4 separate regions of the Homo sapiens genome follow, and all the other regions are linked to region 3. Evidence: fine-mapped expression QTL. A gene starts in region 3. Each other region holds a variant in brackets. All regions are shown on one strand. Distances are between the middles of the regions.

Region 1 (2,685 bases), 36 kb before region 3:
ATCCCAACACTCTGGGAGGCCGAGGAGGGTGGATCATCTGAGGTCAAGAGTTCGAGACCAGCCTGGCTGGTTTCACCATGTTGGTGAAACCCCATTTCTACTAAAAATACAAAAAATTAACTGGGCATGGTGGCACACACCTGTAATCCCAGCTACTTGGGAGGCTGAGGCAGGAGAATTGCTTGAACCCGGGAGGTGGAGGTTGCAGTGAGCTGAGATCACGCCATTGCACTCCGGCTTGGGCAATAAGAGCAAAACTCCTTCTCAAAAAAAAAAAAAAAAGGAAGCACCGACACCTGCCATGGCGTGGATGGGGCTTGAAAGCATCACACTAAGTGCAAGAGGCCAGACATGAAAAGCCATGTATGTTAAGATTCCACTCATGCCAAATGTCCAGAACAGGCAGATCCACAGATGGAAAGCAGGATCATGAAAACGGGGGTGACGGGGAACTGGGGACTCACAGCTTACATATGTGGGGTTTCTTTGTTGGGTAATAAAAATGTTCTAAAGTTAACTATGATAATGGTTGCAAAACTCTGTGAAAATACTAAAACCCACTGAATTGAACACTTTAAATGGGTTTAAATGCAGGCCAGATGCAGTGGGTCACACTTGTCATCCTAACACTTTGGGAGGCCAAGGTGGAAGGATTCCTAGAGGCCAGGAGTTCAAGACTAGCCTGGGTAACACTGCTTGTAAGCCCAGCGTTTTGGGAGGCCGAGGTGGGCAGATCACTTGAGGCCAGGAGTTCAAGACCAGCCTGGCCAAAATGGTGAAACCCCTTCTCTACTAAAAATACAAAAATTAGCTGGGCATGGTGGCACACACCTGTAATCCTAGCTATTTGGGAGGCTGAGGCAGGAAAATTGCTGGAACCCAGGAGGTGGAGGTTGCAGTGAGCTGAGTTCGCACCACTATACTCTAATCTGGGCAACAGAGTGAGGCTCTGTCTCAAAAAAGAAAACAACAACAACAAAATTAGTCGGAGGTGGTGGTGTGCCCCCTGCAGTCCCAACTACTCAGGAGGCTGTGGCGAGAAGGTTATTTGTGCCTGGGAATTCGAGGCTGCAGTGAGCTATGATTGTGCCACTGCACTCTATCCTGGGCAACAGAGCGAGACCTTGTTTCTAGAAAACACAAAAAACCCCAAAAGAGTTTAAATGCTGTGTGAATTTTATCTCCACTAAACTGTTATTAAAAAAAAAAAGTTGGGAGAAACTAACCAAGGAAGATGTGATTCTACTGCAAGCCCCACTTGTTCCTCAGTGGGGACCCACAGCTGAGAGGGAACAAGCCTCCCCAGACCCTGAGGGCCCAGCCCGCCTGCCCCTCACCAGGTGCCCCAAGCTACCCGGGCAGGGAGGCGGTGGGGGCCGCACCTTGTAGGCGTTCCTCCACTTGTCCTCCAGCATCTCCTCGCTCTGGACCCTGCGGGCCAAGTGGTCCCCCAGGCCTGCCGTCACGATCTGTCGCAGGTAGGTCACCTGGCTCTCGGTGGGCGGCTGCATCTTGGGATCCACGAAGAGCTCAGCCTCGGGGCACACGGCATTGACTGAGGGGAGAACCAAGAGTGAGGT[C/T]GGTGGTGGCAAGGCCCGGAGCCAGCTCTGCCCTGACCTCCTAGAAAGTCCCAACCATGCTCAGTGCTCTAGCCTCAGCCACCTGCTTGTCTCAACCCCTCCCCAGAGGCCACCAGCAGGACCCAAAGCCCCCAGCAGGCAGGATTGCAGCCGCCCCCCCATTCCCTCCTTCTCCCTTGGGACAAAGCCCCACATCCTGCCTGGGCAGCAGAGCATTCTTCGAGGAGACAGCCCTCCCCTAACACCCAGGTGGCCTCAGACTCAGTTCTGGTCCATGATGTGAAGAAGGAAGTTGCGGCTGGAATTCCTGGGAACGTTCAATACGGGAACAGGACAGCCGGCGGGTGCCCTGGCCTCATCCTTCCCTTCTCTTGCCTGGAAGGCAGAGGTGACTAAGCCTCCAACTACCTCCTCAGCCCAAGAGGTGACCTTAGGATGGAAGGCACAGCGAATGGCAGGAGGATGGCAGCAGAGAAACGCCCTGGGCTGCTGACTCAAGTGACTTCTCTTCCTTGCAACAATAAAGGTCTAATGTCACCAAGCCACTGTAACCAGCACTGTCTGGAGGCTGACTGCAATTCTAAGCTGCTGCACCTGGAATGGGGCTGCTCTGGAAAGCCACAGCCAGAAGGACACAGAGCATGGTGACAGGGCCACCACCATGCACCTGGCGCTGGGAGAAGGATCGGCCGGAAGAGAGCCATCAATTCTGGCATCAAACCTTGGGATCTGCTTAAATGGAAGGCAAATTCTCCACTAGCCTTGGGTGCAAGAACGTGGCCTGCCCAGAAGAGACCCAGTGTCCACGCTGCCCTCTCTACGCATCGTCCTCTTGCCATATGTTGGAGGACATTTCCTTCCTCTCAAGCTTCCCTGGGTGTTGGTGGCAGGAAGTATTTGTGCTGCTGAGCTGAGGTAGAGTCCAGGGCAAGGCCTCATCCTTCTGCATGAGAAGGGTCTGGGGGACATGTGGGAGGGAAGAGGGGTCCAGGCCACAGCGGTGATGGAAAATGGCAGGGGGTATCGCCAGGGAAAAGGTGAAACCGAGCGACGACCTGGTGGGGGAGGGTGCAGGCTGGCAGCTCGAATCTGTTAGTGCCCTGCT
Region 2 (2,685 bases), 48 kb before region 3:
GCGATGTGCACATCCTCTTATACCTACTCTGTATATTTTGGAACACCGAAAAGCATCGCCAACAAAGTCTCCCCTCTGTATTTAAAAATACGAAAGTACCCGGCCTCCCCGTCGGGGAATCGAACCCCGGTCTCCCGCGTGACAGGCGGGGATACTCACCACTATACTAACGAGGACAAGCCGTACTGTGTTCCCTGCAGCTCCCTTCTTATGTCCATACCATTCTCTCGCTATCGTTCCTAACCTTTCCGGGCCATCCAGGCTCCGCGCCGGGCACCCTGGCTGCTGGGCTTATCCAAGGCGGGTAGAGGCCCCTTTGAGTGGCTGGAGGCACTGCACGTTCCGAAGCTAAGGCACCTGAACTAGCAGAGCGAAGGGCACTTCCTGTATCACCATCCCCAGAAAAGACCAACACAAGGGGTAGGGGATGTAGCTCAGTGGTAGAGCGCATGCTTTGCACGTATGAGGCCCCGGGTTCAATCCCCGGCATCTCCAGACTTTTCCGCCTTTTTCGGGCAAATTACAGTCACGTGGTTACAAAAGCTTGGAAGAGGACCCAGGCAACCCTCAACAACCTGCCTGCGAAGAAAGCTCCCTTGGAAGGGGCTGCGCCAGCACATTTCCCTGCCCCTAATCACAAATGCCCTGGGCCCCTCCACCGGAGATTCGCGTTCAGTAGGTCAGTGACGGGGCCGGGAATCTGCCATTTGAAACGAATACTCCCAGTTATTTGTTTCATCAAGCAGATAGAAAAACATGGATTCCTTAGAAAGGTTCTGCAACTGACCATTCATTAACTCCTGAGGGCCTCATGTCAGGTTCCGTGCATGCACTGAGCACCTACTGTGTGCCGGGTAAAGTGTACGTCCCCTGGTATCCCTGGATAAGACAGGCCAGGCAAGCTTTCTCAGCCTTTTTGGACTTTATAGTCCAGTCCTGGAGACTTAACAATAAGCAAGTAGCGATACGTTTTATGAAGACAATAATAGCGATGAGATGGAAACTCAGGGGTGCAGGAGTGGGGGTTGCTTTAGATTAGCTGCCAGGGGAGACCTCTGCAGAAACAGTGCTTCCAGCGAAGGAAACGGCAGGTGCCAAGGCCC[T/C]GAGGCTGGAGGAAGGGCGCTCAGTGTTGAAGGGGCAGGAAGAAAGCCATGCCCTGGAGCTTAGTGAATGAGGATGAACTTTATCTTCGAAGACACTGGAAGGCCTGACGCAGGGGAACGCGACCAGATTCAGGTTTGAAAAGGCTCCCTCTGGCTGCCATGCGGAGAACACACCCTGGGCGTGGGTGGACGTGGGGAGATCGGGAAGGAGGTGCAGCCACCGCCCAGGAAGCTGCTGGAGACTTCCTCCAGGGGTGCTGCAGAGGAAGTGCGAGCCTGATGGAGTTCAGGACAAATGCTGGACGTGGTTGCATAGTATTTCCTAACGGAGGGGTAGCACGCTTTATTACCATTCCTCCTAGGGATTCGGGTAATTTTGTTTCCTCTCACTGAAGTCTTGTAGTCAGTGATCTGGTGCATGCGTTTTCCTTGCCTTCTGGCGCCGGTACCTCGATGGGGCAGATGTCCACAGGGAGCAATGCAGGGTCAAAGGGCATGGATACTTTTACAAACGTACTTCTCTGTCGCCCAGGCTGGAATGCAGTGGTGCGATCATAGCTCACTGCAGCCTCGAAATCCTTGGCTCAAGAGACCTCCCAGCCTCCCCAAAAGCTGAGACTACAGGTATACTTCACCACCTCCAGCAAATATTTTTCTTTTTTTTTTTTTTGTAGAGACAGGGGTCTCGCTATGTTGTCCAGGCTGGTCTCGAACATCTGGCCTCAAGTGATCCTCTCACCTCAGCCTTCCAAAGTGCTGGGATTACACGCATAAACACCATGCCTGGTTTATTTTAAATATTGCTAGATTTTGGGCCAGGCATGGTGGCTCACACTTGTAATCCCAGCCCTTTGGAAGGGCGAGGTGGGCAGATCACCTGAGGTCAGGAGTTTGAGACCAGCCTGGCCAACATGGTGAAACTTCATCTCTACTAAAAATATAAAAAATTAGCTGGGTGTGGTGGCACACACTTGTAGTCTCAGCTACTCAGGAGGCTGAGGCAGGAGAATCACTTGAACCCAGGAGGCAGAGGTTGCAGTGAGCAGAGATTGCACCACTACACTCCAGCCTGGGCAACAGAGCAAGACTCTGTCTCAGAAAAAAAAAATAAATAAAAACAATAAATATTGCTGGATTTTTTTCTAAAGGCTGTGGCAACTTACATATTCAATAACAATGTATGAAGGTGCTCTTTTCCTTATATTCTCAGCACTGGGTATGGCCATGATTATTAATTTTTCCAATCTGTTGGGTAGGAAGTAGAACTGAATTATTTCTCTGCTTTTTTCCTGCCTACTTTCTAGGGTGTGCATGTTTTCAGGTATCTACCAGCCATGCAGATGCAGGTTTTTGTGTTTTTTTTTCCAGATGGGAATCTCACTCTGTCATCCAGGCTGGAGTGCAGTGGTTGATCTCAAATCTCCACAACCTCCACTTCCTGGGTTCAAATGATTCTCATTCCTCAGGCCCTCGAGTAGCTGGTATTACCGGTGCGCGCCACCATGCCTGGCTAATTTTTGTATTTTTTCATTCAAGACGGTGTTTGGCCATGTTGGCCAGGTTGGTCTCGAACTCCTGGCCT
Region 3 (2,685 bases):
CTGCTCAGGTGGTCCAGTTCCAAGTGTCAGCCCAGTGTCTACGGCTGTCTTTGAGGTGCCATCCTGAATTGTCACTGCCATCATAACGGTTGTCACCTGTCCTGGGACACACCCCACCTCTGTAACCTTTCTTTACTTTTCAAAGCAACATATTTTCCCAAATTACCATCTCCAAAACTCTGATAGGAGGTAAGACGGCTACTACAGGTTAAATATCCCTTTCCAGAAATGCTAGGAACCAGACCTGTTTTAGCTTTAGGAACATCTGTATTCTATTCACTGGTTGAGCATCCCTAATCTAAAAATTTGAAATCTGGAATGCTCCAATGAGCATTTCCTTAAGTGTCATGTTGACACTCAAAAACTTTTGAATTTTGGAGTATTTTGGATTAAGGCTGCTCAACGTGTGCTACTGGTCCCATTCTGCAGATGTGAAAACGAAGGCACAGAGATGTTAGGGGATCTGCCTCAACTCCCAGCCTGTCTGTGGAACTTTTTTTTTTTTTTTTTTTTTTTTGAGATGGAGTCTCGCTCTCTCACCCAGGCTAGAGTACAGTGGTGCGATCTTGGCTCACTGCAACCTCCGTATCCTGGGTTCAAGCCATTCTCCTGCCTCAGCCTCCCAAGTAGCTGGGACTACAGGTGCCCACCACCACGCCTCCTCTGCTCTAAATGCTCCCATGGCTGCCCTCTCCCGTAGAGAAAAAGCCCCAGTCCTCGCCAAGACTGCAGTCCAGGCCCGACCTGCCCTGGCCCCCTGTTTTTTCTCTCATCTCCAGGCAGCCACTCAGGTCTCCTTCAGATCTTGACTCTAACAGAGTGATGTCTTCTCCAGCAACTCTATGGGATGCTGCAACCCACCCAATGGCCTCTTCTGTTTTATCTGCTCACTATAGCCGCATAAATTTCTATATGTTTATTCTTTGCCTGTCTCCTCCTATACAGCAGGTAAACTCAGGGATTTTCTAAAAATCTCCCTTTCTGCTATGTCTCCAGTGCCTAGAATAGTGCCTGGCATGTAATAAGGGCTACTCCTAAAAAGGGGTCTGAGAGAAATGTCAGCCAGCCTGGAGCTGAGCAGACAAGACTGGGCTGAAAATACACATTTGGGGGTCGCTGGAGATTATAAAGAGATTATAATCGAAGTCATGGGAAGGGATGGAACTACTCCTGTTTTTTTTGCCAAATTCTCCATGTTACTATTTGAGGGCGAGAGAAATCCCGGGTATTCCATATACACTGTTAAAACTAGGCTGTCACTAAGCCCCTCTCCTTTGGATCATCTGGAATGGGGGGACCCATTCCCCCATTCCAGATGATCCATCCCACCCCTCTGGGATCCCCACCCGAGAGTCCTGAAGGCAGGGCACAGGCCGCCCTGGGAAATCTCCGAAATCCAGCCCCGGTCCGGGGATGTCTTACCCTCCAGTTCCAGCTGCACGGGGGGCGGCTCGGGGGGGCCCTTCGAGGGTCCGGGGCCCGCCTGCTGGCGCCCCTTGATGTTGTAGCGCCGGCGCAGCTTCCCCATGGCGACTAGGCCAGGGTGGGCGCTCCAGCGGCCGGACCAGCAGAGCAATCCGAAACCCAGCCCACGTGGGTTCCCAGACCACCAACTCCGGCCGTGAGACTTCCGGGTTGTGTTATCGCGAGAACTGTAACTGACTTTGCCGCTGAGGGGCGGGGTTGCAAGAGAAACCCAGCGAAGAGGAGAGGCGGAGCCGGGCCGGGCAGGGGGCGGGACTATTTAGAGAAGTAGGCGGGGCCTGAGGTCCCAGCGGAGGCCGGAGTTTAAGTCCTGGGCTGTTCTCGCTTGGGGTAGTCTGGGTTTAAATATGAATTATATCTACTGATACTAATTTGGCTTCTTGGGAGTGGAAGTGTTTTGCCACCTTTTAAAATATACCCCGCCCCCAGTACTCCAAACTTCTTCCCCCCAACCCTGGTTTGCGCATCTGTATTTTCTGATATTCCTACAAGAAACGTATTAGTCGTGTACTTTTAAAAAGGCACCAAATATTTCCATCACAGGGATAGATGGAAGATCTAAAAGGAGGCCTCTACGGGCGCGGTGGCTCACGCCTGTAATCCCAGCACTTTTGGAGGCCGAGGCGGGCGGATCACGAGGTCAGGATTTCAAGACCAGCCTGGCCAAGATGGTGAAACCCCCGTCTCTACCAAAAATACAAAAAAAATTTAGCTAGGCCTGGTGGCAGGCGTCTGTAATCCCAGCTACTTGGGAGGCTGAGGCAGAGAATTGATTGAACCCGGGAGGTGGACGTTGCAGTGAGCCGAGACTGCACCACTGCACTTCAGCCTGGGCAACAGAGCTAGACTCTGTCTCAAAAAAAAAAAAATAAAGTTGTCTATTACATAACTTTAAATTCCCATTACCGCATCACATTGTAACACACTGGGAAACAATGCATTATTATTATTATTGAGACAAGGTCTGGCTTTGTTGCCCAGGCTGGAGTGTAGTGGAGCAATCTCGGCTCACTGCAACCTCTGCCTCCCGGGTTTAAACGATTCTCCTGCCTCAGCCTTCCGAGTAGCTGGGACTACAGGTGCCCGCCACCACCCCCAGCTAGTTTTTGTATTTTAGTAGAGACGGAGTTTCACCATGTTGGCCAGGCTGGTCTCAAACTCCTGACCTCGTGATCTGCCTGCCTGGGCCTCCCAAAGTGC
Region 4 (2,685 bases), 890 kb after region 3:
GGCTGCTATAACAAAATACCATATAGTGGATGGTTATTCATTTTGTGTTACTTTGTTATATTAGCCTTAAAGAACTAAGACATTTATGTCTCACAGTTCTGGGGGCTGAGAAGTCTAAGATCAAGGTTCCGCTGATTCAGTTCCAGGTGTGGGCCTGCTTCCTGGCATGCAGATGTATGCCTTCGCACTGTGTCCTCACATGGTGGAGAGACAGTGAGAGAAGGAGCAAGCTCTCTGGTGCCTCTTCTTATAAGGGCACTAATGCCATTAAAAGGGTTCCACCCTCATGAATGTTTATGAACATAAGTACCTCCATAAAGGCCCTGTCTCCAAATACCATCACACTGGGGTTAAGTCACCAATATATGAATTTTGGGGAATACAAAGATTCAGTCCATGACAATGGGCTTAGGCTCAGAAGACAAAATATGTGTGAAATGTCCTGGTGACTGTCATACTTGTTTAAATGGTCTATCCACCAAGGATGGTCAGTTGCTCCCCAGAGAAGACTCTCCGTATCTGACTCTTCCCCTGTCCTGGCAGGTGAGACTGTTACCAATGATGACTGATTGCTCAAAATGGAGGGGCTGCAGTGAGAAACTGGAGCAAGAGGGGGCATTTCCAGGGTTGATTCTCAGGGTCCCTGGACCCTGCCACCCATGTAGCTGCAGTTTGTGATCACCTATGACCACACCAACCCTATATTCAATAGAAGACACTGAAAATAGCCTCCCACAAATAATAGTCCACAAAGCCAGCAGCTGTAAGGTCAGCAAAAGAGGCTGCTATGGAACTTGGGATGGAGAAAGGAATCCAGGCCCTCATGTTGGCAAATGATGGACAAAGTTTGGGGACTGTCACTGTGGAGCATGAGATACTAATTAGGGAGAGCATCTGGCATCTGTGCATTACAGAGACAAACCTTTGAGCTGCATTTGATGAGGAAAGAAAGGAAATGCTCCATCAGCGAAATAGAGCCATTGCTCATGAAGTGAGTGCAAATGTGATATTATCCCCTTTCATCATCATCCGATGCCTTGCTAATCAGTAATAAAAAAGATTCTGATAAATTAGGCCTGATGTTCTGCTCTAAAATTAAGTGGGAAGAAAAATAAATTGGGAATGTGTTAATTTTGTCTGTGGCACCTTAGGAATAAGAATATGTCCTATTGCATCCAAATCCTGAATATCCTGTCATGCCACTTGTGTTGCATGAAAAGTGTCCTAGCACAGGTCTATACTGTGGCTGACATGCAGACGGCCAATTGAAAGTGCCAGTTACATTTCTGCATAGTCAGATATCACTGGGTCAAGAAATTTTATTTGCTATTGAAGGCAACCTAATTATTTTATTTTTTATTTTTTTGAGATGGAGTCTCGCTCTGTCACCCAGGCTGGAGTGCAGTGGCGCAATCCCAGCTCACTGCAACC[T/C]TCGCCTCCTGGGTTCAAGCAATTCTCCTGCCTCAGCCTCCTGAGTAGCTGGGATTACAGGCCTGTGCCACCACGCCTGGCAAATTTTTGTATTTTTAATAGAGACAGGGTTTCACCATGTTGACAAGGCTGGTCTCGAACTCTTGACTTCGTGATCCACCAGCCTCGGCCTCCGAAAGTGCTGGATTACAGGCGTGAGCCACCAGGCCCGCCCCTGAAGGCATCATAATTATAAAAGCCTATTGCTTATTATAGGAATAAAAAAGACACTAAAGAAAAACAAAAGGAAGAAAAGAAATATTACCTCTACTCCCAATAGAAATAACCATGATTAGTATTTTGATTTATTTACTGTTAGTGCTTAGTTTAGGCATAAAAGAAAGAAAGAAATACATATATTCATAAATAATGTTCATGAACTTTTAGAAATGGATTTTATTTTTCTGAGGTTTTAATAATTAGACTCATTCTGCTTTTCAAACTTGGCATATTTTAAGCATCTCCCCATGTTATTAAATATTTTTAGAAAACACGAGGTTTTAAAATTATCTCAATAACTTTAAAAATGCAACTTGCTCTTCTTCTCTTTTGTATATTTTAATAGTTGGTTTTTGGCATATGTACCACTAATCCCAGAATTATTACACTTAGGATTATCCTTAGCAAACTATTTCAGGAACAGAAAACCAAATACTGTCTGTTCTCACTTGTAAGTGGGAGCTGAATGATGGGAACACATGGACACATAGAGGAGAACAACACACACTGGGGTCTTTCAGAGGGTGGAGGGTGGGAGGAGGGAGAGGATCAGGAAAAATAACTAATGGGTACTAGTCTTAACACCTGGGTGATGAAATAATCTGTACAACAAACACCCATGATACAAGTTTACCAGTGTAACAAACCTACACATGTACCCCTGAATTTAGAATAAAAGTTAAAAAAAATAAAAATTTACAGATCGCCAGGTTGGGTAGAACCTTAGAAGTGGCTTTGATAGATCTCTATTCAACACACCCTCTACAAAAGGGTTAGAAAGAGTTGGGTTCAAAAACTTAATAACAGTAACAGCAATAATAGTTGTATTTGAGCCCATAATGTATACAGGCTTTGTTCTGAGTTATTTGCATGTATTTTAAAATATATATATATATTTTATTATACTTTAAGTTCTAGGGTACATGTGCACAATGTGCAGGTTTGTTACATATGTATACATGTGTCATGTTGGTGTGTTGCACCCATTAACTCGTC

Alleles and levels. Positions count from the first base shown, and alleles are read on the strand shown. Sizes are in standard deviations (SD) of each study's normalised expression. Not every link is listed here.
In carriers of allele C in region 1, the expression in lymphoblastoid cells of the gene that starts at base 1,637 in region 3 tends to be lower than with T alone (small effect, 0.25 SD a copy in GEUVADIS).
For the expression in monocytes of the gene that starts at base 1,637 in region 3, allele C in region 4 goes with a higher level than allele T (large effect, 0.78 SD a copy in Kim-Hellmuth 2017).

What was found.
Region 1: its variant is fine-mapped to the expression of DHX37 in lymphoblastoid cells (GEUVADIS, PIP 0.95).
Region 2: its variant is fine-mapped to the expression of DHX37 in tibial nerve (GTEx, PIP above 0.99).
Region 4: its variant is fine-mapped to the expression of DHX37 in monocytes (Kim-Hellmuth 2017, PIP 0.95).

Annotation. Positions count from the first base shown.
Region 1 is chr12:124,951,016-124,953,700 of GRCh38, forward strand. It overlaps DHX37 (DEAH-box helicase 37), which reads right to left. Exons shown (of 27, transcript NM_032656.4): 21 at 1,383-1,555. Among named protein-coding and RNA genes, the nearest start is that of TRA-TGC4-1, 12 kb to the left of the region's middle. The variant C/T (reference allele first, on the strand shown) is at 1,581.
Region 2 is chr12:124,939,543-124,942,227 of GRCh38, forward strand. TRD-GTC2-10 (tRNA-Asp (anticodon GTC) 2-10) reads right to left here and starts at 176; the gene lies at 105-176. It overlaps TRA-TGC4-1 (tRNA-Ala (anticodon TGC) 4-1), which reads left to right and starts at 424; the gene lies at 424-495. RefSeq lists a silencer at 139-218. The variant T/C (reference allele first, on the strand shown) is at 1,104.
Region 3 is chr12:124,987,495-124,990,179 of GRCh38, forward strand. It overlaps DHX37 (DEAH-box helicase 37), which reads right to left and starts at 1,637. Exons shown (of 27, transcript NM_032656.4): 1 at 1,423-1,637. The coding sequence starts at 1,528. RefSeq lists an enhancer at 1-100 and a silencer at 1,341-1,550.
Region 4 is chr12:125,874,094-125,876,778 of GRCh38, forward strand. No RefSeq gene overlaps it. Among named protein-coding and RNA genes, the nearest start is that of LINC00939, 110 kb to the right of the region's middle. The variant T/C (reference allele first, on the strand shown) is at 1,432.